Linked DNA regions of Homo sapiens: region 2 is linked to region 1. Evidence: fine-mapped expression QTL. A gene starts in region 1. The other region holds a variant in brackets. All regions are shown on one strand. Distances are between the middles of the regions.

What was found.
Region 2: its variant is fine-mapped to the expression of UBXN4 in monocytes after LPS (Quach 2016, PIP 0.95). The same link has a PIP of 0.9 or more in monocytes after R848.

Annotation. Positions count from the first base shown.
Region 1 is chr2:135,738,309-135,749,148 of GRCh38, forward strand. It overlaps UBXN4 (UBX domain protein 4), which reads left to right and starts at 3,547. Exons shown (of 13, transcript NM_014607.4): 1 at 3,547-3,703; 2 at 9,959-10,061. The coding sequence starts at 3,622. It overlaps LOC107985946 (a long non-coding RNA gene), which reads right to left and starts at 4,336. Exons shown (of 1, transcript NR_163478.1): 1 at 2,521-4,336. RefSeq lists enhancers at 3,165-3,294, 3,625-3,684, 4,013-4,788 and a silencer at 4,085-4,134.
Region 2 is chr2:135,780,857-135,791,696 of GRCh38, forward strand. UBXN4 (UBX domain protein 4) reads left to right here. Exons shown (of 13, transcript NM_014607.4): 13 at 1,893-4,200. The coding sequence ends at 2,031. LCT (lactase) reads right to left here. Exons shown (of 17, transcript NM_002299.4): 15 at 9,802-10,025; 16 at 8,715-8,942; 17 at 6,994-7,688. The coding sequence ends at 7,468. Among named protein-coding and RNA genes, the nearest start is that of LCT-AS1, 34 kb to the right of the region's middle. The variant C/CT (reference allele first, on the strand shown) is at 5,710.

The DNA.
Region 1 (10,840 bases):
AGCTACTGCACCCAGCAGTTTTGCCTCTCAGTAGAAAGTGAATTCTGTCAGGAAGGAATAATAGAAGGCATGGTAGAAGAATGACTGCTGGATCGGCCATCAACAGAATGTGCTGTATACCCCATTTTCCCTCCCATCTCCAGAGGGGCCTTCCATTTTCCCATTTGTTCAATCTAAGACCAGTTCCTTTCCACTAGCATTTAATTTTATGCAAATCTCTCCCATCTTTAAAAAGGCTGTCTTTTCAAATCCAAATTCCTGTCCAGCTAATGTTCCTTTCTTCCTTCTCACCTTCACACTCACTGACTCTTTACCTCCCCTTACTTTTCAACCTTTTGCCATCTGGCTTCTGTACACAAGAACCATGAGAATTGCTCTTGCTAAGCTTAAAATGACCTCTGTGTTACTAAAAACAATGGACATTTTTTAGTCTCTCATCTTAATTGACCCAACAGCAGCATTCCACACCACTGCTTCTCCTTTCTTAAAATTCTCTCTACCCTTGGCTTCTTTGATATCACACACTCTCCCATTTTCTTCCACCACCCCACACTCTGCCTTTCCTGCTGAGTCTCTTTTACTGGTTTATACTTTTTAATACAACCCTATAAACGTTGGAGGCCCTAAGACCTCAATCATGCTCGTGTCTCACCTCACTTTGCACCATCTCCCTAAGTGATGGTATCGTTATCTTCCAGTGCCTCATTGATCCCCTGTATGTAGATAAATCTCACTTTCCTATCTCTAGTTAAGAACTGTTATCTGAGCTCCAAGACTAATAGCTATCTGCCTACTTAACACTGCATGTGAATATCTCTCTAGTACTCCAAACACATGTTTAATATTGAACTCACACCTTCATGAACAACCTCCCCACCATCCTTCACTTCTTTCAGTGTTGCCTATCTCAGTACCATCTTCTTTACGATTTTGCAAGGCAGATACCCCAAATCTCTCTCTCTCTCTTTTTTTTTAGAGACAGGGTCTTGCTCTGTCGCCCAAGCTGGAGTGCAGTGGTGCAGTCATGGCTCGGTGCAGTCATGGCTCACTGCAGCCTCAAACTCCTGGGTTCAAGTGATCCTCCTGCCTTGGCCTCCCAAAGTGCTTGGATTACAGGCATGAGCTAACACACCTGGCCACAAAATCCCTTCTTGAGTCCTTCTTCCTCAACCTCCACATGTAATCAACAAAATATATTGGGTCTGTCTCCAGAATATCAAAAGCATCCACTTCACTATCTCCCTTATGTTAATACATGAATAAGTACCTCTTACCTGGTCTATTCACATTCAGCCATTCCACTTCAAATCCAATCTATTCAATTGCTATCATACAATTTAAAAATGGAAGTCTTATATGTATCTGTTTATTTATTTATTTTTTGAGATATAGTCTTGCTCTTTCGCCCAGGCTGGTGGGCAGTGGTGCCATCTTGGCTCACTACAACCTCCACCTCCTAGGTTCAAGCGATTCTCCTGCCTCAGCCTCCTGAGTAGCTGGGATTACAGGCATGTGCAATCACGCCCAGCTAATTTTTGTATTTTTAGTAGAGATGGGGTTTCACCACGTTGGTCAGGCTGGTCTTGAACTGCTGACCTCATGATCTGCCCGCCTCGGCCTCCCAAAGTGCTGGGATTACAGGCATGAGCCATTGTGCCTGGCCAACTCTTCTGTTTAAAATTTTTCAATGGCTCCCTGTAATCCTTAGAAAAATGTCTTAAAATTTTTAACATGATTTTCAAGACTCTGTATCATCTGATCCTTGCCTAGCTTTCCAGCCTCACTTGTACCACACTCCTCTTTCTATGTTATAGCCACACTGGGCATTTTTTAGTTCTGCAAGTGCACTGTGTTTGCTTGCTTCAGAGCCTCATGTGGAATAGCCTTCTCCTTCACCTACCTAGAGTTCCCCGACACGTCATTTCCTCATGAAGGCCCTTTCTGACTCCACTAGCCCATGTTCGGTCCCATCCTCATACACTTCTGTAGCACTCTGAATTACCCTTCTGTGACATTTATCATCACTCATAATTACTTATTCAATGTCTGTCTTCCTGACTAGACTGTACAGTCACAAAGACAGGGCCTTCTTCTGACTGCCTCACCTCCTTATCAGTGCCAGGCACAATGCCTAGCTCATAAAAGATGAGTGATAAACACTTGACAAATGAATATAAAACTATGAAGGATTCTTATTTAATTCTAAAATTAGAGATAATTAAAGACATAGCTCTATTGGAATAATTTCTAGATTGATCAAATTTCCAGAAGTCCATTAAAGTTGATGTTAAAGGTCAATTCTAATTTTTCTGTAGGATTGTTGTCCTATAGAAGCAACTGTCCCTAATCAGCATTATGTCTCAGTTTATAATAACACTATATACGAGAGGCCTGATTGGGAAAAAAAGTACAAAAATCGGAGTGCAAATAATTAGCTATTTTTAGGGAAAATATCTGTAGGAAAGGTGGTATATTCAGATGTATCACTTCCTTTATCTTGCAAAGATTGTCAGATAGATGTACTGCTGGAGGATAAATTTAATTGATGTAGAATTTAACATAATAGTATATGCAACTTTAAATAAACCATGCAAGCCTTTAGCTAATAGTTATTACAGACCATGTGATTTCATGAAAGTATTAAATATGGATCAGTTTTCATTTAATGGCAGCCAATCACAAAGCGCCACATCTTGATTATAGGACATTCTCCCAGAAAATTGGAAAATAAATCACTATCTAGTCTCTTTTGTATTACCATGGAAAGTAGCTGGAAAAGAAATAATCTATTCTCTGCTTTGTGTTACTTTAAAAAGTAGCTGTGGCAATAGCCTAACGCGTTTTGAAGTTTTGAAATGATCTCTATCCAGTGTCTAGGAAATTGCTGAAGGCCTGCGTTCTACCAATTCCTCCGCTTAGGCACATGGACTACAGGTTATTAAAGAAGGTGACTTGCGGTTTTTATCCCGTTTTTCTGCAAGGTTGGGCTACGTTCAGAAGAAATCAAAGCCTCGGAGTTAATCCCGACAAAGCCCATTTAGTTCCATGCGAGGACTATTTCCTCCACACTGAGAGTCTCAACGAGGCCGAGAATAGCATATGCCAGTTGGAGTGACACTTATTTCTCCCTCTCCCCTTTATAGAATGTGTAGTGGCCCTCACTACTGCCCCCTTTAGCTGTGCCTCAGAACCCACAGTTACATGCTCCACAATATGGAGGCGAATAAGCCTAAGTGGACTACAATTCCCATCATGCCTCACTGCAGGCGCCGCCGACGTGTCTTAGCGGTTAGTCATCCCTCTTACCGCTTTCCTCCACTTCCTGGACTGCGCGACCGGAGGCCTAGCGGGCGCGCGCCCGCACCATCGACTCGCCAACGAGAGAAGGTCCTGGGGCACGGACACCGACGGGTTGCGACTGTGACGTGAGGTGTTCTCGCGCGCGCTAGCGCGCGTCTCCGGGTGCCGCTGACGGGCGTGCGCGCTTGTGCGGAGCCGGAGGTGGGGGCCGAACCAGCCAAGGTTGCGGGGGCCGCAGAGCCGGACGAAGACGGAGGGCGGAGCCGGCTTCGGGACTGCGGAGACTACACACCGAGCGAGCGCCTGGGCCCGAAGGGAGCGATGCTGTGGTTCCAGGGCGCCATTCCGGCCGCCATCGCGACGGCCAAAAGGAGCGGCGCGGTCTTCGTGGTGTTCGTGGCAGGTGAAGGAGGCAGGGGTTCGAGAGGCGGCCGGGACACCCCTCCGGCCTACCTTCATCCTCTTGTATACCTCAGCCGCCGGCCCGCCCTCCCCGAGACGCGGGCTCCTGTCGGCTCGCACAATTGCCACTACTACCCCGCGCCCCAGGGACGGCTGCGACTCCGCCGCCAGATCCCCCAGAGGGGCCATGCAGACCCTCAGCGCCCTGCTCCTTCAGGCCCCGGGCGCCCCCAGCCTTTCCTCAGTGTCTGCGAGGCCCGGGCTGCCGGCCCGTGGCTGTTCAGCGCCTCCCCGGTTCGTTTGAGATACAGTGGGCCTGGCCCCACCGCTGCGTCTCCCGGCAGCCGGGCCGGAGGCACCGTCTGGCCCTGGTCTCCAAAGCGCCCCGAGGCCCGCCGAAATCTCCCCGCTCGGGGCGACGGACGCGGCCAGCAGGCCCCAGCCGCCCAGCCCCGCTCGTCGCCCCGAGCCTCTCCCCTGCGCAGCCAGACCCCCGCGACCCTCTCCCTGACGTCCCTCTCTGTCACCAAGGACCCTCTTTGTGCTGCTTGAACGCCCGTTTCGTTACTGCTGTTTAGATGGAGGTAGGAACGGGCCATTAGGCAAGCAGTTGGGTTGTAATTAGTTGTGGACTGTCGGGAAGAAAGCTGTGTCATCGATAAGCAACAAAGAGAAACCACCTGATGTTCACGGTTACTGGTGTTAGTACGTTCCTGAAACGTAAACTTTTGAGCTGAATAGAGGTTTAATTTTTCTTTATGGCAGTCTTGGTAGGGGATCTAGTGTGAAATAATGTAAGTTTAAAAAAAATCCATTAGTTTCAAAGAAAATAGACGTTCAGTCCTTGGTTTCTTCCCTTTGTTGTCTTCTTAGGCTAAAATCTACACGACTTTGAGAACGTTTATTAACTCATATATTCTCTGTTGCTCTAGGCTATTTTGCTCCATATTCTCCTGTTTTATTACTGAAATCTTGTAGATTTACAGTGAACTCCCTGCCTCTACGGTTCTGCTCATACTCATTACATGGACCAAATCAATGTTTGTGGCTGTTGTTAATTTGAGGTGTATTTCTTCAACTATTTGTGTTTAATAACGGTTTATTCATAATTAACTCGTCTTTTAATAGCTCTATAACTTTATGCACTGCAGTGAAGAACGAATTACTGAAATGTGAATGTCATTTAGCATTAAATTTGGAATTTATAATTGTTTTGTTACGCCAAGTTTTTAGCTCAATGCTGTTTATTAGAAGAGCTTGAATAGTTTAGATTCTGTGATGCTGTCTGGGGGTTATATTATACTTTACATAAATTAATTCTGTAATCCCGTAAGGAAAAAAATGGATTGAAAATGAAAGGAAAAGTAAATGACACTATGCTTATTGTGTACATTAGTAGGTTTTTGACATTTTAAATTGTTTTTCTCCTAATATCTCAGTTGATCCTTGCAGTAAATAGAACAGGTTTAATTATCCCCATTTTATAGATGAGGCACTTAGGTCAGCAGTCATAAAGTGACTTGCACTAGGGCCACAAAAAGGATTTACATGTCTTAACAGTCAAATTTTTTAGTAGCTTCAAAAAAACTGGCTTTTTTGTTTCTTAAGGAAAAAACTGAACAATTTGTAAATTGGTGATTTAAATTGGTATAGAAATCAGAAATTTGGATTATGGTAGTCATGTTTTTGAACAAATGTCCAAACATTCCTAGAAGGCACTCTTGAGGTAAATCAGTTAATTTAAAAAAAGAAACGAGAGATTTTTATTAACAAATATTAATATTTGGAAACTCTAGTACAAATTATTGGAATAGTTAAATAAAGTTATAGGTCTTGCCTTTCGGGGTTTTGTGTATATATATATACTTTCTTCAATTAAGTTTTTACTGATGAGCATGTATTACATGTATTTAGAATATAATGACTCTTGAATGTTTGCAGGAAGACTGTTAGCAATCTCACAAAGGAGTCTCTGTCTGTCCCTTGACCTGTTCCAAAATCCAGCTAGCTTTTTTAGAGCTTTAGCCAGTTAATCCCCAAGACTAAGTAGGATTAGTGTCACTCTAGGAGTATGTAGATACTGGACTCATGAAACCAAAACACTTACAGATTGCTTAGAGCTTTCTTCATAACTCTGAAGTCAGAACTTGTGATTTTCTTAGGTCTAAGATCTCAGTAATAATATACCAACTTAATGGAAAATTTGAAAGATGTCTTTATAGTTGGAAGACGTGATCTCAAGAGTACACTTTGGTTCATAGAACTGTTCAAGTGGGAAACGTTTTAGGCAAGTGGTCTTTAGTTAGTGACATTTTCATGGATGAATTAAAGAATATTGTAGAGTTGATGTTAGGAGACGAGAGATTACTACTACTTCAGCTAACAAATTAATATGATTTTCAAAGTATTGTGGCTGTGTAAAGTAAGTGAAACAAAACGATATTCATTTAATACTTGGGAAGGTAGAATAATCTGACGAGACTGAAGTAAAGGTATCTGTTCACTGGCTAATGTTGCTAGGTAGGTAGGCCAAACTTTGTTAATGATAGACGCCATTTTCTGCCTTTTTTGGTGAATGTAGACCACAGAAGCCTTTAGGTTTTGAGCAGTTGAGATTTATTTTACATCGGAAAGACTGGCTGTATGAGGGTCTGCAACTCTTTGCTTCTGAGTTCGTGTTGCTCTCTTTAAGTGCCTTCGCTTAGGATACTGCCGATACAAAGGATATGCTGTTTTCTCCTAAAATCTTAGGCCCACCTAACTTTATAGTTGATAATTTGATTAAAAATAAGAAATGAAAGATACCAGAGTTAGCAATCAGTCATCCCACTCAGTAGTATTAGGAAAGTTGTCATTAAGCATTGAGTAATTCCATTCAGCTTTCCACCACTGCTGTTCAAGCAGCTGCTGCCACCACTAGGCTGAGTCTAGGACAGACACTGCCAGTAGGGTTGAGACATCTGGGACCCTAATCACATGGTACAGTATAGGTGAGGGAGTGATGCACCAGCCTCACAAGAAGCAAGATTTATACTTTCAGCTACTTACGTGATATCACTGTTTAGATCCTCCCAGGATTCTCAAGCCTAAACGTGTAAGTGCTGCCTAAACCTGTGTTTCTCCCAGTGTTCTGCATCTGATTGGCACTACCATACATCTGGTTGGATAAACCATAAATATGAGAGTCATCTTTGACTCTTAACTCTTCAGTCTCTTCTTGAGCTCCGGATTGTTCACAACATTCCAAATCACATAGGCCTTTCCCTACACACGTATTCCTTCTGCGTGGTGAACTCTTCTGGCTGTTGGCATGGCTGAGCTCTCTTATCCTTTAGATTTTAGCTTAACTGTCACCTCAGAGAGGGCTTCTCTGACCATTATAAAGAGTTCTCTTGTTATTTTCTCTCATAGATTTCTTTTTAGTAGCATTTATTACTGTAATTACGTATAGTGTCTATTTGTTTAAAAATTTTGTATACCATTAGATTTTAAGCTCTGTTGAAGGCAGACAATGTCTCATTTGGTTTATATTTAGTATACAGTTCAATGCCTAGAACAAAATAAATGCAATAAAATAGTGAACATATAAAAGAATGAATGGAAAGGATTTCTCATTCTTCACAGCCTTCTCTGAGAAGGGTTCGTAGTAAGAATATTCTCATATACTTATTTTTCTTTGGTAGGTGAGTCATTTATTTGGAATCTTAATCTCTCCTCATCAGATGGTTTCTGAAGATGCATTTAGAGTGATCTCACTTGCAAATAGTAACTTCTCGTTATTTTGCATCTTCAACATCTAGGAGTCTGCTAATGGAGCATTCTTAATGGAGCATTTGGTCTGTGGATGCATTCTAGTCCCGTTTACTTTTTTTTTTTTTTTTTTTTTGAGATGGAGTCTCACTCTGCCGCCAGGCTGGAGTACAGTGGTGCAATCTCGGCTCACTACAACCTCCACTTCCCTGGTTCAAGCGATTCTCCTGCCTCAGCCTCCTGAGTAGCTGGGACTACAGGTGTGTGTCACCACGCACAGCTAATTTTTGTATTTTTAGTAGAGACGGGGTTTCACCGTGTTGGCCGGGATGATCTAGATCTCTTGACCTCGTGATCCGTCCGCCTAAGCCTCACAAAGTGAGCCACCGTGCCCGACCCCGTTTACTTTTCCATGGTCAAATTTCTCAAACTCCTATTTCTGGTATTCCTGAATCTCATCTCACAAAATATATGCAAATAAACAGCATTAGAGTCAATTATTATAGGCATGCCATCATACTTACTATATTAGGCATTTAGCTATTCCACAGAGTACTTATTGGGTGCCTACTATGTTTTGTAGAGATTTTAGTCTTGTCAGTAAATAAAATGGAACCAATCCTTGCCTTCATGGAACCTTCATTCTAGTTAGGGGAGACAGATACTAGTAAACATAATTAAAAATGCATAGTATATTGGAAGGTGAAAGTAATACAGAAAAACAACAGGAGATAAGGGAGCTTTGGGAATGTCTCAAGAGTGTAATTTTAAAGTAAGTGAGTAGGAGAGTTGTAATATTAAAGTGGGTGATTAAGTATCAGCTTTATTGAGCTGATATTTGAGCAAAGTTTTAAGGGAGTTGGAAGTTAACCATGTAGTTATCTGGGGGAAGAACATTCCAGGCAGAGGAAACAACTAGTACAAAGACCTTATGGCTGAAGTGTCTTTCATATTTGAGGAATAGAAGGAAAAAGAATAGCAAGAAAGGAAAAAGGAATGAGGTCACAGAGGTAGTTGGAGTCCTGATGTATGGGGCCTTCAAGCGCCCTGTAAGGACTTTGGCTTTTACTTTGAGGAAAATGGGGAGCCATTGTGTGATCTAAGCAGAGGGTTGATGTGATCTTTTTTTTTTTAGAGAAAGTTGCTGTGTTAAGAATAGACTTAGCAGGAAGACCAATTTGGAGGCTTTTACTAGGCTTCCAGGTGAGATGTGATAGCTTGGATCAGGGTAGTTAGTAGTGGAAGTGGTAAGAAAGTTACATTCTTGATTTATTTTGGAGCTGGAGTCAGTTACAATCAAGGAAAACTAGTTTTTTGGCCTGAGAACTGGAAGGATGGAGTTACCATAAACGAATAACTGCAATGAGGAAGGCCAAAGTGGATTAAATTGTCCTGGCCAACATAGTGAAACCCCATCTCTACTAAAAATACAAAAAAATTAGCTGGGCGTGGTGGCGGGCACCTGTAATTCCAGCTGCTCAGGAGGCTGAGGCAGGAGAATCGCTTGAACCCGGGAGGCAGAGATTGCAATGAGCCAAGATTGCACCATTGCACTACAACCTGAGCGACAAGAGTGAAACTCCATCTCAAAAAAAAAAAAAAAAAAAAAAAAGATACAGAACGTTTTCAGCATTCCAGAAGGCTCCTTCATGCTCTATCAAGGTAGCCACTATACTGAATTCTATCACCATAGATTAGTTATAGGTTAGCATACCTTTTATAATTAGCATACCTACAATAAAAGGCAAGTCTAAAATTGCAAACAGAATTGTACCTGCCTCTGTCTACCTTGGATTAATTTTGGAGTATAAATGCTGTGGAGTGGAGATGTTGAACTCAACAGAAAGGTGCCACATAAAGGACAGATATCAAACTTTTTATTTTTCTCTCTCTCTAGACGGTCTCACTGTGTCACCCAGGCTGGAGTGCAGTGGTGCAATCTCCGCTCACTGCAACTTCCACCTTCCGAGTGCAAGCAATTCTCCTGCCTCAGCCTCCTATGTAGGTGGGATTACAGGCATGCGCCACCACACCTGGCTAAGTAGAGATGGGGTTTTACCGTGTTGGCCAGTCTGGTCTCGAATTCCTGGCCTCAGGTGATCTACCCGCCTCAGCCTCCCAAAGTGCTGAGATTATAGGCGTGAGCCACCGAGCCCAGCCCACAACTTTTATTTTAATAAAATCTTATGTACAAAAGCCCAAATAGGCACTGCACCGATGACTGCTTATTATTGTGGTACTTTGCGCATCATAATTTAGATGGCTTCTTTTATGAAATATTTTGTATCATTTAAATAGTCCAGTGTAGTTTGTTTTCATTGCTCTTCATGATGTGAACTGTGTATGCAGTCACACTTTTCATTTAGTGGAAAATTCAGTTTTCAAATTTGGCAGAAAGTGGTATAGGTGGGATTATATTTTATTTGAGGTTTCCGTTTTCCAGGGGAAAAGAGTTTGCAATCAGCAGATCCCAGCCTGGTATAAGAATTTTTGAAATGTTTTACAGGTGATGATGAACAGTCTACACAGATGGCTGCAAGTTGGGAAGATGATAAAGTTACAGAAGCATCTTCAAACAGTTTTGTTGCTATTAAAATCGATACCAAAAGGTTTGTTTATGTTTTAATATTTTATTAATTTTAAAATTTATAAGTATTGTCTTTGATTTATAGTGATACTCTTGGACTAGAAGAATGTTGATGTTGGGCTGGGCACTCCCAGCACTTTGGGAGACTGAGGTGGGAGGATCGCTTGAGCCCAGGAGTTAGAGGCTAGCCTGGGCAACATAGTGAGACCCTGTCTCTATAAAAAATAATAATAAAATTAGGAGTGTGGTGTGTGCCTTTGGTCCTGCTACTTGGGAGGCTGAGGGGAGGATCACTTGATCCCTGAAGACTGGGGCTACAGTGAGCTGTGATCATGCCACTGCACTCCAGCCTGGGTGACAGAGTCAAACTCTGTCTCAAAAAAAAAAAAAAAAGAATATAGGCCAGGCACAGTGGCTCATGCCTGTAATCCCAGAACTTTGGGAGGCCAAGACAGGCGGATCACTTGAGGTCAGGAGTTTGAGACCAGTCTGGGCAACACAGTGAGACCTTGTCTCTACTAAAAAAAAAAATACAAAAATTAGCCGGGTGTGGTGGCACACGCCTGTAATCCCAGCTACTCGGGGGGCTGAGGTAAGAGGATCACTTGAGCCCAGGAGGTTGAAGTTGAGGCTGCAGTTAGCAGTGACTGCACCACTGCACTATAGCCTGGGCGAGAGAGCAAGACTATCTCAAAAAAAAAAAAAGAATGTTTATGCTATGTTTTTGGGTATCTAAGGCATATTAGGAACTTAAATTCTGACTGCCGTTTGCTAAATTCATCATGAATCCTGCTGAAAAAA
Region 2 (10,840 bases), 43 kb after region 1:
AGGACCAAATTGTGGAAACAGGTTATTGCTTTGAAAATTCTCTCTCAGAGAATTATTTTGGACTAATCCCTTAACCAAGAGACCAGGGCCTGATGCAGTGGCTCACGCCTGTAATCCCAGCACTTTGGGAGGCTGAGGCGAGAGAATTACTTGAGCTTATGCATTCAAGACTAGCCTGGGCAATATAGTGAGACCTTGTCTGTACAAAAACAATTTAAAAATTTGCCAGGCACATGTCTGTGGTCCCAGCTACTTGGGAGGCTGAGATGGGAAGATCACTTGAGCCCGGGAGATTGAGGCTGCAGTGAGCCAAGATTGTGCCATTGCACTCCAGCCTGGGTGACAGAGTAAGAGTGAGATCCTGTCTCAAAACAAAAACAAAACAACTTTTATAGCAGATAGCATGCAATGGTTAGCATAGTAATACAACACTGACAATTTTAACTCCTATCTTTGTTAAGATTTTATATACTTGAAACAGGTTAATGGGAAGTATTTTCCTAGAAAGTAAGTTTATGCCCCTTTCTAATAATTACATAATAATGTAACTTACTGAAATGGACACCGCTGTTAAGCACTCTATGAGGCCTTTTATAGGCATTATAACAAATCTTCATGCCAGTCCTATGTGATAAGTAATAGAAATTCTTTTTTCTCTGCCCTCAGTATGGAGAAGCCCTAGTCATGTGTTTATGGATTCCATAGGTAATGACATATAAGTATTGTGATTGGGCTGCTTTGTCCTTTATCTTATTTCATAACTGTTAGGCAGGAAGACCAGTTACCTACTAAGTACGTTACTGTAGTGAGGACAGAGGGAAGCTCAAACAAGGCTGAATCTTAAAACTCTTACTGAGCAATGGGTGGGAGCATTTAATACTGAATTACTGTAATATAGGAGAGCTCGTTGTATGGATTTTTAAAACTTTTTTCAGGCTGGGTGTGGTACCTCATACTTGTAATCCCAGCTCTTTGGGAAGCTGAGGTGCAAGGATCACTTGAGGCCAGAAGTTTGAGACCAGCCTGGGCAACATAGTGAGGCTCCATCTCTACAAAAAAAACTTTTAGTGAGCTGTGTGTGATAGCGTGTGCCTATAGTTTCAGCTGCCTGGGAAGCTGGGGCAGGAGGATTGTGTGAGCTCCAGAGTTTTGAGGCTGTAGTGAACCGTGATCGTGCCACTGCACTCTAGCCTGGGCAACAGAGGGGACACCCTGTCTCAAAAAAGAACAAAAAACAACACTTTTTTCAAATAAGAGAAAGGTCTTAGATTAGAGCAAAGGATGGAATAAAAGGTGTGTCAAAGAGAGGGTGAAGCTTTGTGTTCCACCATTATTTTTCCTTTTTTCTCTCCCCTCTAGAGTTATAAAAGTCTGTTGGCTTAAATTTTATCCTTATACCTTTGTATTTTCAGAATAGGAAGTCCTCTTCATTCTTAATTGTTTATAAATAAGTCATTCTTGAAGATTTTGCGAAGGATTTAAAATTGACCCTTTCTGTCAAGCTGACTGGAGCTTTGGATAGTCTCTAGGGTGCTAAGTTACAAATGTTTTAGTAGATAATGTCGGCTTGCATAAATAACAAAGGAAAGATTAGTTGGCAAATGGTCACACTCCTCTAATGCTTATTAAGTCACTAAGAAACACAATGGAAATGGAATATATGATTTGGCTGGCTGGCTTGACTTAGAGATCAGATGAAGCTAAACTACCAAAGACTGCTAAAGTCTAGTACTGTGTTAGTAGATATAATGGTCTCCCATGGACTTTCCTTACTTTAGATGGCATTAAAAGTAAAACTTAGTTGCCTGTACTGATGGAAGTTGGAAACAGCTTGTATTACTATTGTTTTTATTTTATGACATCTTCCCCTTGCTCCCTCTTTTTCGTATCAGGGAACCAGTGAGAAAAAGAGTGCTGGAAAAACGTGGAGACGACTTTAAAAAGGAGGGGAAAATTTATAGATTAAGGACTCAAGATGATGGTGAAGATGAAAACAACACTTGGAATGGAAATTCCACTCAACAGATGTAGTGTGACAAGTATAATATGTGCAATAATCATTGTTTCTCTTATGATTTAATTCAACTAAAATTCTACTGGAGAAGTGGGACTGCTTTATATTTTCCAACTGGTCTATAAAATGTCTCTTTATTCCTGCTTAGTGGGTGTGGGTTGAAGGTGTTTAACTCAGAAAAGTAAAGACAGGAAATAACTCTCTGCTAGGTCCTTGCTTATATGGCAACCACTGCTAGAACCCTAAAAGAACCAAAAATCTGCCACAGCCTGCCTCCATCAGCTTCTTATTTAGTATTTCATATGCCCATTAGCCCTATGCTTCAGATGACACGTTTTGTTTAGAGCTACTTTGCTCCAAGACTCTTAAGCCCAAAGTAACTGGTATGTCACTGAGTAACTTGACTCGGTGTCAGAGCATTTTAACTAGCCACTCAGATGAGAATTTATGTTTAACTTCTCTTTTTACTCATCAGCTGCAAGCAAAATCTTGTAGTTTTTAATCTTAAACACTGAATAAAAAAACTTTCCCCTAAATTGGAATGATCTTAGTTTTGCTTTGAGTTTTGTTATCTAGCATCTTTTTGTTGCACAGGGCTCTATTGAGGTCCTATGTCTCTGATTTTTTTTTTTCCCCAGTATTGCCCTGGAGCTGTCTCTGGAAAGTAGCTGGCGAGGTTACCTTAACTATCACTGAAGAAAGAAATTTTCTGACACACTGATGGCATGTGACTTGTCTCCTAAGTCAGTGAGGCATCACTTTGTTTGCATAAAGTATACGGTTTGTTAAGGCCTTTGTTCTTGTGAGATGCAAAACAGCTGCTAGTCTGCAACCTAGTTTTCCCTCTCACCTTTAACTGACGTTTTGTCCTCAATAATTACACAAGGACCTAGAGTACCTATAGGACAAAAAGTATAGAATAAAAATATGCCTTTAGTCATTTGGTTTTTCTTAAAAAGTTGAGATTCTTAATCTGACTTACATGTTACTTTATCCGTATGTCTTTGTTAGTGGAGACCGCTAAACTAATGATGTTTGAAAACAGTTCCTCTGTTTTAGATTGGAAGATAGCACTCTAGAGTGGACATACGGAAAGACTGTGACTTTATTTTGTAATGGGAGGAAGAAATTTTCTCAGAGCAAACTTTCTATTTTTTACCTGTGAAATAACAGTGACTTTTTAAAATGGTGACAGTGTTGGCAAGGAAACAGCAACACAGGCTGCGCTGTTGGTAGGAGTGAAAACCAGTATAATTCTTCTGAAAAACATTTATCAGAAACTTAAAATATTTCATACCGTTTGATCCAGTAGCTTCTTCTAAATCATAAATGCAGACAATGTTTAGGTAAAGACATACTCATTAAGTGTTATTTATTTTACTCAAGAACTGGAAACCAACTAAATGCCTTCTATAGAAGTAATTTTTGATGAGGAGAAATGGTACAATACTAATTAACAACTTGGTTTAACATGTTTACTGAGCATCTGTTAAGTGTTGGGGGAAAAAGCAGCAGGATCCAGAGCTATAGGTACAGTGTGATCTCAGCTTTGCAAACACATTTTCTACATAGATAGTACTAGGTATTAATAGATATGTAAAGAAAGAAATCACACCATTAATAATGGTAAGATTGGTTTATGTGATTTTAGTGGTATTTTTGGCACCCTTATATATGTTTTCCAAACTTTCAGCAGTGATATTATTTCCATAACTTAAAAAGTGAGTTTGAAAAAGAAAATCTCCAGCAAGCATCTCATTTAAATAAAGGTTTGTCATCTTTAAAAATACAGCAATATGTGACTTTTTAAAAAAGCTGTCAAATAGGTGTGACCCTACTAATAATTATTAGAAATACATTTAAAAACATCGAGTACCTCAAGTCAGTTTGCCTTGAAAAATATCAAATATAACTCTTAGAGAAATGTACATAAAAGAATGCTTCGTAATTTTGGAGTAGGAGGTTCCCTCCTCAATTTTGTATTTTTAAAAGTACATGGTAAAAAAAAAAATTCACAACAGTATATAAGGCTGTAAAATGAGAATTCTGCCCCCTCACCTCTTACCCCAGTACTATTCTCCAGAGGTAATCTATTAACAATTTCTTATGTAATTTTCAGAAAATTTGTATGCGTATATAAGCAAATATGTAATCTTTATTTTTTAAATAAATGGGATCATATTATATATTCTACCTTGCATCTTGCTTTTTTGCTTACATAGTCTTGAGATCTTTTCCTGTCGACACTGAGCTACCTCATTTTTAATGGTTGCATAGCATTCTGCTTGATGAATGTACTGCATTCAGCTTACTGTCCATGCTCTGGTGGCAGTCAGTGGTTATTACACAATTTTGTTTTTCTATTACAAACATTGCCATCGTAAGCAACCTTCAGTGGGAGGTATAGTCTTACTGTGAAAATATACCTGTAGAATATGTTTGTATAACTTGCTAAGTGAAAGAAGAGTGTTTGCAGTTTGGATTGTGAAAGATGCTGTTGCATTGCCTCCTCTACAAGCTGTGTGAATTTGAACCCCTACCAACAGTCATGAGAATGTCCATTTTCCCACACCCTTGCCAACACTGTATTATCATACTTTCTTAGCTTTGTCAAAATGATGGATGAAAAATGATACAATCTCGTATGCATTGTATTTATCATGAATGAAGTGAGCATCTTGATGTTATTGATCAGTTTGGCTTATCGTGAGAGCTCCGTGTATTCCTTGCCAATTTTTGTTTTCATATTTTTCTTACTGATTTATAAGACTACTGTGTACATTACAGCCATTTGCTAGCATATGCAGTGAATATTTTCTCTTTTTTTTTTTTTTTTTTTTTTTTTTTTTTTTGAGACGGAGTCTCCCGCTTGCCCAGGCTGGAGTGCAGTGGTGCAATCTCGGCTCACTACAAGCTCTGCCTCCTGGGTTCACACCATTCTCCTGCCTCAGCCTCCCGAGTAGCTGGGACTACAGGTGCCCACCACCACAGCTGGCTAATTTTTGTATTTTGTTTAGCAGAGACAGGGTTTCACCGTGTTAGCCAGGATGGTCTTGATCTCCTGACCTCGTGATCCGCCTGCCTCGGCCTCCCAAAGTGTTGGGATTACAGGCGTGAGCCACCGCGCCTGGCTTCTCCCTCCCTTTTGTTGAGTATATTTGGTAATTTTTTCCACAGTATTATCTGTGTTTTCCTTTATGACCTCCAGGTCTTGAGTCTTGCTTATAAATACCTTTCCCACTTCAAAAATTAATTTTTTTATATCCTAGGATTCTTATGGTTTCCTTTTTGTATGTTTAAATCTGGTATCCAAGGAAAGGACCTGGCTCCTTCCCATGCCCGTGGCTAACATCCCCAGGAGCCTGTTCCCTCACTGCCTTCATGGGCCCTCTGCCCCGAGTAGGCGCACTGCCTGCGAGGTGGGCATCTGTTCCATGTGCAGATGCTTCTGTGTCTAGGCTTTCTCTTCCTTTATTGATCTGTTTGCTCTCTGCTATACCAAACTAAGCTAGCTTTATAATGTGTTTTAATCTTCTTCCCCCAGATTTATCCTGGCTCTTCTTACAAGTTTATTTCATATATGAAACTTCTTTATATTATTTTGTTAGTGTTGTCCCAAAAAAGTGATGTTGAGTTTTGAGATTATTTAGGTATAATTGGCACCTTATGATACTGAGTTTCTCCCCAAAGAATGT[C/CT]TTTTTTTTTTTTTTTTTTGAGACAGTCTCACTCAGTCGCCCAGGCTGGAGTGCAGTGGTGCGATCTCAGCTCACTGCAAGCTCCGCCTCCCAGGTTCACACCATTCTCCTGCCTCAGCCTCCTGAGTAGCTGGGACTACAGGCACCCGCCACCACGCCTGGCTAATTTTTTGTATTTTTAGTAGAGATGGGGTTTCACCATGTTAGCCAGGATGGTCTCGATCTCCTGACCTCGTGATCTGCCCACCTCAGCCTCCCAAAGTGCTGGGATTACAGGTGTGCGCCACCGTGCCCGGCCAACAAATGTCTTTAATATCAATTTTAGAACCACCCCCACCCCCATCTGACAAACTTTTCCAGTCGATTGATGGAGAAAAATGCTTGTGCACCACAAGCTCCTGACTGCCAGGTTGGGACTCATGGCGTTGGAATGTTTTGATAGGGAAAGGAATGCTTACAAGAAGCAAATTTCAAGTGTGATCATCCTTTTAAGACCAGCCCAAAATTACTCTGTTGTTACAAAACATTTTCCCAGCTATCTAGATGTAATATATGGGCCAATCAAGTGTTTAGGTGTTTCACACTGAGATTGTCTCTCAGCACATTTGAGGGGATTATAAAGAACATATCTCTGCTCCCACCACTGCCCTGGAAATGCTATGTGAATGGGTGAACACACGAAAGGAGCATTTGTGCTTTTCATTGCTCTCTCCAAGTTGTGCTTGCCAGAGACAATGAGACATGGTCCTTGGCCTTAAGAAGCTGATGATAGAGAAATACGCAATTCCAGTATAGAAACTGGATGGTCAAGTTGTAATAGGGGATATTTACAAGCAAAGCAGACGAAGGAGAATCTGCCTGGGGATTTCAGGGAAGCCATTCAGAGGAGGAAGTACATTATTTCAGCTGAGACTTAAAGGCATTTTCAGAAGAAAGGGCATCCTAGGTGGAAGGAGTAGCATTTGGGAAGACACAAAGGAATATGGATAGTTGTCCTATGTGCCGTTTAGAACTACCACAAATTGGGAAAGGAGGAAGGAAACAGACTAAATGAACCAAGGTCAGATGGGAGAGCTGGGGATGGCATAAAAAGTGGCAGTGGGGGTGTTCGAGGGGTGGGAAAAGGCCACTTTCTGCATGTTGTGGTATTTGCCCCAAGGAATATAATGTCAACAGAAAGACTTGGTCTGGTGAGAAAGCTTAATCGGAGCTCCAGATGGCTTGTGTGACTTCATAACTTCTCTTGAACCTACTTTCTCAAGGAGGGGCAACCATAGGAGAAAGGACAGTCTGCTGTTTTTATTTTCTGGAAAACACAAGATGTGAAGCTAGGGAGAGCTTGCAGAAGGGCAGGAGATGATATTGCAGTCTATGCAATGGAGTTGATTTCTTCTTATAGGAAGGATTTTTACGGTTTTTGCTCCCTTAACAACCCTTAACAACTCTGAAACTTAAAACAGCCCTGTTAAGTTCAATTAAGTGGTTCACAGACCCACTAGACCAGTATCTACACGTTTCCGCAAGAGCTACTTGCTTCTCAAATGCCCAAATGAACTCTGATACTGGAGCAAGATGGAGATATTTCCATTTTACTCAGCAAGTCGAAATCATTCAAGATTAAAGTCATCTCTAACGGTGCAGCAGGACTTTATGGAGAAGTCCAGTATCAGCAGAGTCTAAGACCCTAAGGTGTTTGGTGGCCGGTAAACATAGATGAAGAAACTAGGCCTGCTTCATAGAACTTGAGGTGGTAACTCATCAGAATGAAGACACCGGGCTCAATTCCTGTTGGCTTCGTTGTGTTTTCCCTTGCTTAGAGCGCTTGCAGTACTTGTATGACAGAAATGCCAAGCCACAGACTCCAAGAAGCACAAGAGAAAAGAGAACGTACAAAGCTGTCTGTGCTTCTGTGGTGCCGAGCATTAGCCCCAGGAACTGCACCTCCTCCTGTCTCACGGGGCTGATGGTGGGTCCAGCATCTAGGAGAGTGTGACACAGGGTGGTTGGTGCTCTGGCGCTGATTTGAGTTCTCAGATCTCTGAGACCCCAGCAGAGGCTGCACGGTACCCCAAATCCGCACAGCCATTGACGGGATGCCGAGGTGGAGGTACCCATCCCCTTTCACTGTGTGTCAGGAGCCTCTGAGTGAAGTTAAGCAGTTGTATTTTTTAAACATCTCTATCAGCAATTAGAATACGGTTGAATATCCCTTATCTGACATGCTTGCTTGGGATCAGAAGTGTTTCAGATTTGGGATTTTTTAAGATTTTGGAATATTTGCATATACATAATGAGATATTTTGGGGATGGGACCCAGGTCTAAATATGAAATTCATATATGTTTTATATGCAACTTATCCACGTGGTGTGAAGGTAATTCTATACAATATGTTAAATAATTGTGTGCATGAAACAAAGCTTTAACTGTGTTTTGACTGCGACCTGTCACATGGGGTCAGGTGTTGAATTTTCCATTTGTGTTGTCATGCCAGTCATGCTCAAAAAGTTTCAGATTTTGGAGTATTTTGGATTTTGAATTTTCAGATGAAGGATTCTCAGCCTGTATAATTGAAACTGGATAATTGTCATTTACATTTGTGTAGTGATTTATACTCTTACATTTAACAAATACGGGGCACCCACATGGTGCAGGCATTGTACTTTCATGGTCCCTTTATTTGATCCTTATAACTGCCCTGAAGCATGTGCCTGGTTTCTTATCTATGAGTGCACAGCAAGTTAGTGGTAGGGCTGGAAGAAGAGTCTAGACCTGCTTATTCCCAGGTCAGGGCTCTGGTTTCTAGGTGTAACATTGACCCTAAGTGTCCTTTGTTCCACCCCAGGAAATGTCTGGAGCATTCAAAGAAAATAAACATTTGTTGAATGAATGAAGGAGATGGGGCAGCAGAGAGGAGGGTAATAAACTAGAAGAAAACAGACTGAGAGAGGCCCTTCCACCTGCCCTTCACCCTTAGGCTTTATTCCCTCCCAGAGCCACATCTCACCTGGCTGGTGGAGACAAGCGTGAGGCCCTGTAGCGGGGTCAGGGAAGCCATTGCATCGGACCACAGAGGCGTAGAACTTCGCTGATGCTTTGGGGATCCTTGGCAGAGAAGGGTCACTGTAGTTCACAAAATGCAGACCAAATCTCTCTGAAAAGCCTGTGGCCCACTCAAAATTGTCCATCGCACTCCAAACTGTGTATCCTCGAAGGTCCACCTTGTCCTGCACAGCTGCTCAAACACAGAGGACTAGGCATAAGTTTCCTATCTCATAAGGCAGCTTCCTGCCAGGCCTTCGGAAGCCAGGTCTGCCTACTGCTCTCCCCACCGCCTTCACAGATGGCGGTAAGCTTTGGCTTTAGCTCTGTGAGAAAGCTGCCCCTTTCTTTGCATGCAGTGACTGTTAGCGGGTCCTCTGTGGATGGAGATGTAGAGCCACCAGCATCTTTAGAAAGGCTCAGCCCTGAATGGGAGTCGGGAACATGGGTGGACTAATTTCCCTGGGTCACCTACACTTCTATCCATGATCTTGGTCAGTGCCTTAGAATGTTAATGCTTCTCCCTGTAGAAAATAGCCCTTAGATAGAATATATTTCAGCTGGGTAGGATTTTTCTAATCATTTCCTTTGCTGGTGCATTGCTTGCTCTTTTACTCAGCATTTGTTCCATTCTCTTATCCTCATGGTCCCATCTCAAGTTGTTAGGGCTGAGCCAAGAGCCTCAAACTTTTGCTCGGAGACTAAGAGACCCTACAGGCAACCACACAGCCTACTCCTCCTGGGCCCTACCCAGACCATTCTCAGGAGGGCACTGCTGTTCCGACATCAGGGAGGATCAAGGGGAGCAAGTGACTCAGGCCAGGAACTAGGGTTTGGTGGCATCAGGCCACTGGGCTTGCTTGCTGAGCTTAGACATAGGAAGGAAAAAAACTCAGAGTGCGGCCCTAAAGCAAAGCTTAACCCCCACAGGAGCAAGAAGGCTTATCGTTCTCTTCTTACTGTGGCCCAAGGACGCTGTATCACACTCCTGCAAATAGCAGATGTTTCCAACAGGGGAAGGTGCACGCTGGGGAAGGGCGGGCCCGTCGTACCTTTGAGGGCCTCATTGATGTAAGTCCGAAGGTAGTAGATCCTTGCAGTGTCATTGAGGTCTGTTTCTTCCCGCTGGGACACTCCATTCTCTGTGACATAAATTGGAGGGTCATTGTATTCCTCCTTTAACCAGTTCAGGATCCTCCTGAAGCCAAAAGGCGTCATCTTCAGCCAGAAGGAGCCAGAGTCTGGCCACGAGCGATCTGCGATGGAAGCAACTCCTCTACAAGTTCAAAAACTAAAGATGAGGTCTTGTTTTGTAAATCTCAAGAGGCCCTTTACACGAAACACAAAACAGGACTTAGACCAGGAAAAGCCTTAGGTTTTGTCTAGCCTTAAGAATCATACTAAACCCAGAAGAATCAAATTGCCTCAAATTCTCCTCCTTTCGCTGGTTCTAGCTGCCTGCACTCTGTGCTTGTATAGCATTGGACAAGCCACTCAGCTCTCCGTCCTTCAATTTCTCTGCCTGTGCAGAGAATGGTCTTGCTCATGGAGCCCAGCCCTCCACTACTCTGAATAGATGGCTCCTTACACCAGCTATGAAAGGCTATGGGTCCCCAGCTCCAGGCTTCCAATGGACGCCAGTGCTGTGTCTTCAGAGAATGGGCTCCCCCAAGTCACCCATGTCTAGTCAATGCCACTTGCAGACCACGGGTGAGGCCACAGGCACGAATATTTGTAGGGGCCCTGCTTTGTGTGAAGACAGGCAGCAGACAGGCTGGCACCTCCTTCAAGTGTCCAAGAGCCTGGCCTCTCTCTTCAGTGATGGACGAGGAGGTGGACAGCTCCTGCCACAGGGGTGCCTGCTGGGGGAGGCCACAGAAGCCTGATCACCTGTAGTCACATATGTCAAATAAGAACCAAGAATTTAGACACTTCCTACACTCAGATCTTTCAGGGAAAAAAAAAATGTTGGTTTTATCAGCACCTGGATTTATCTGACTCAGCTGAATTGAATGTGGGCCATTTCATAAGCACTAGTGGAGGTCTTCCCAGGGACAGCCCCAGGGCTCATAAGAGGGAGGGAGAATCAGA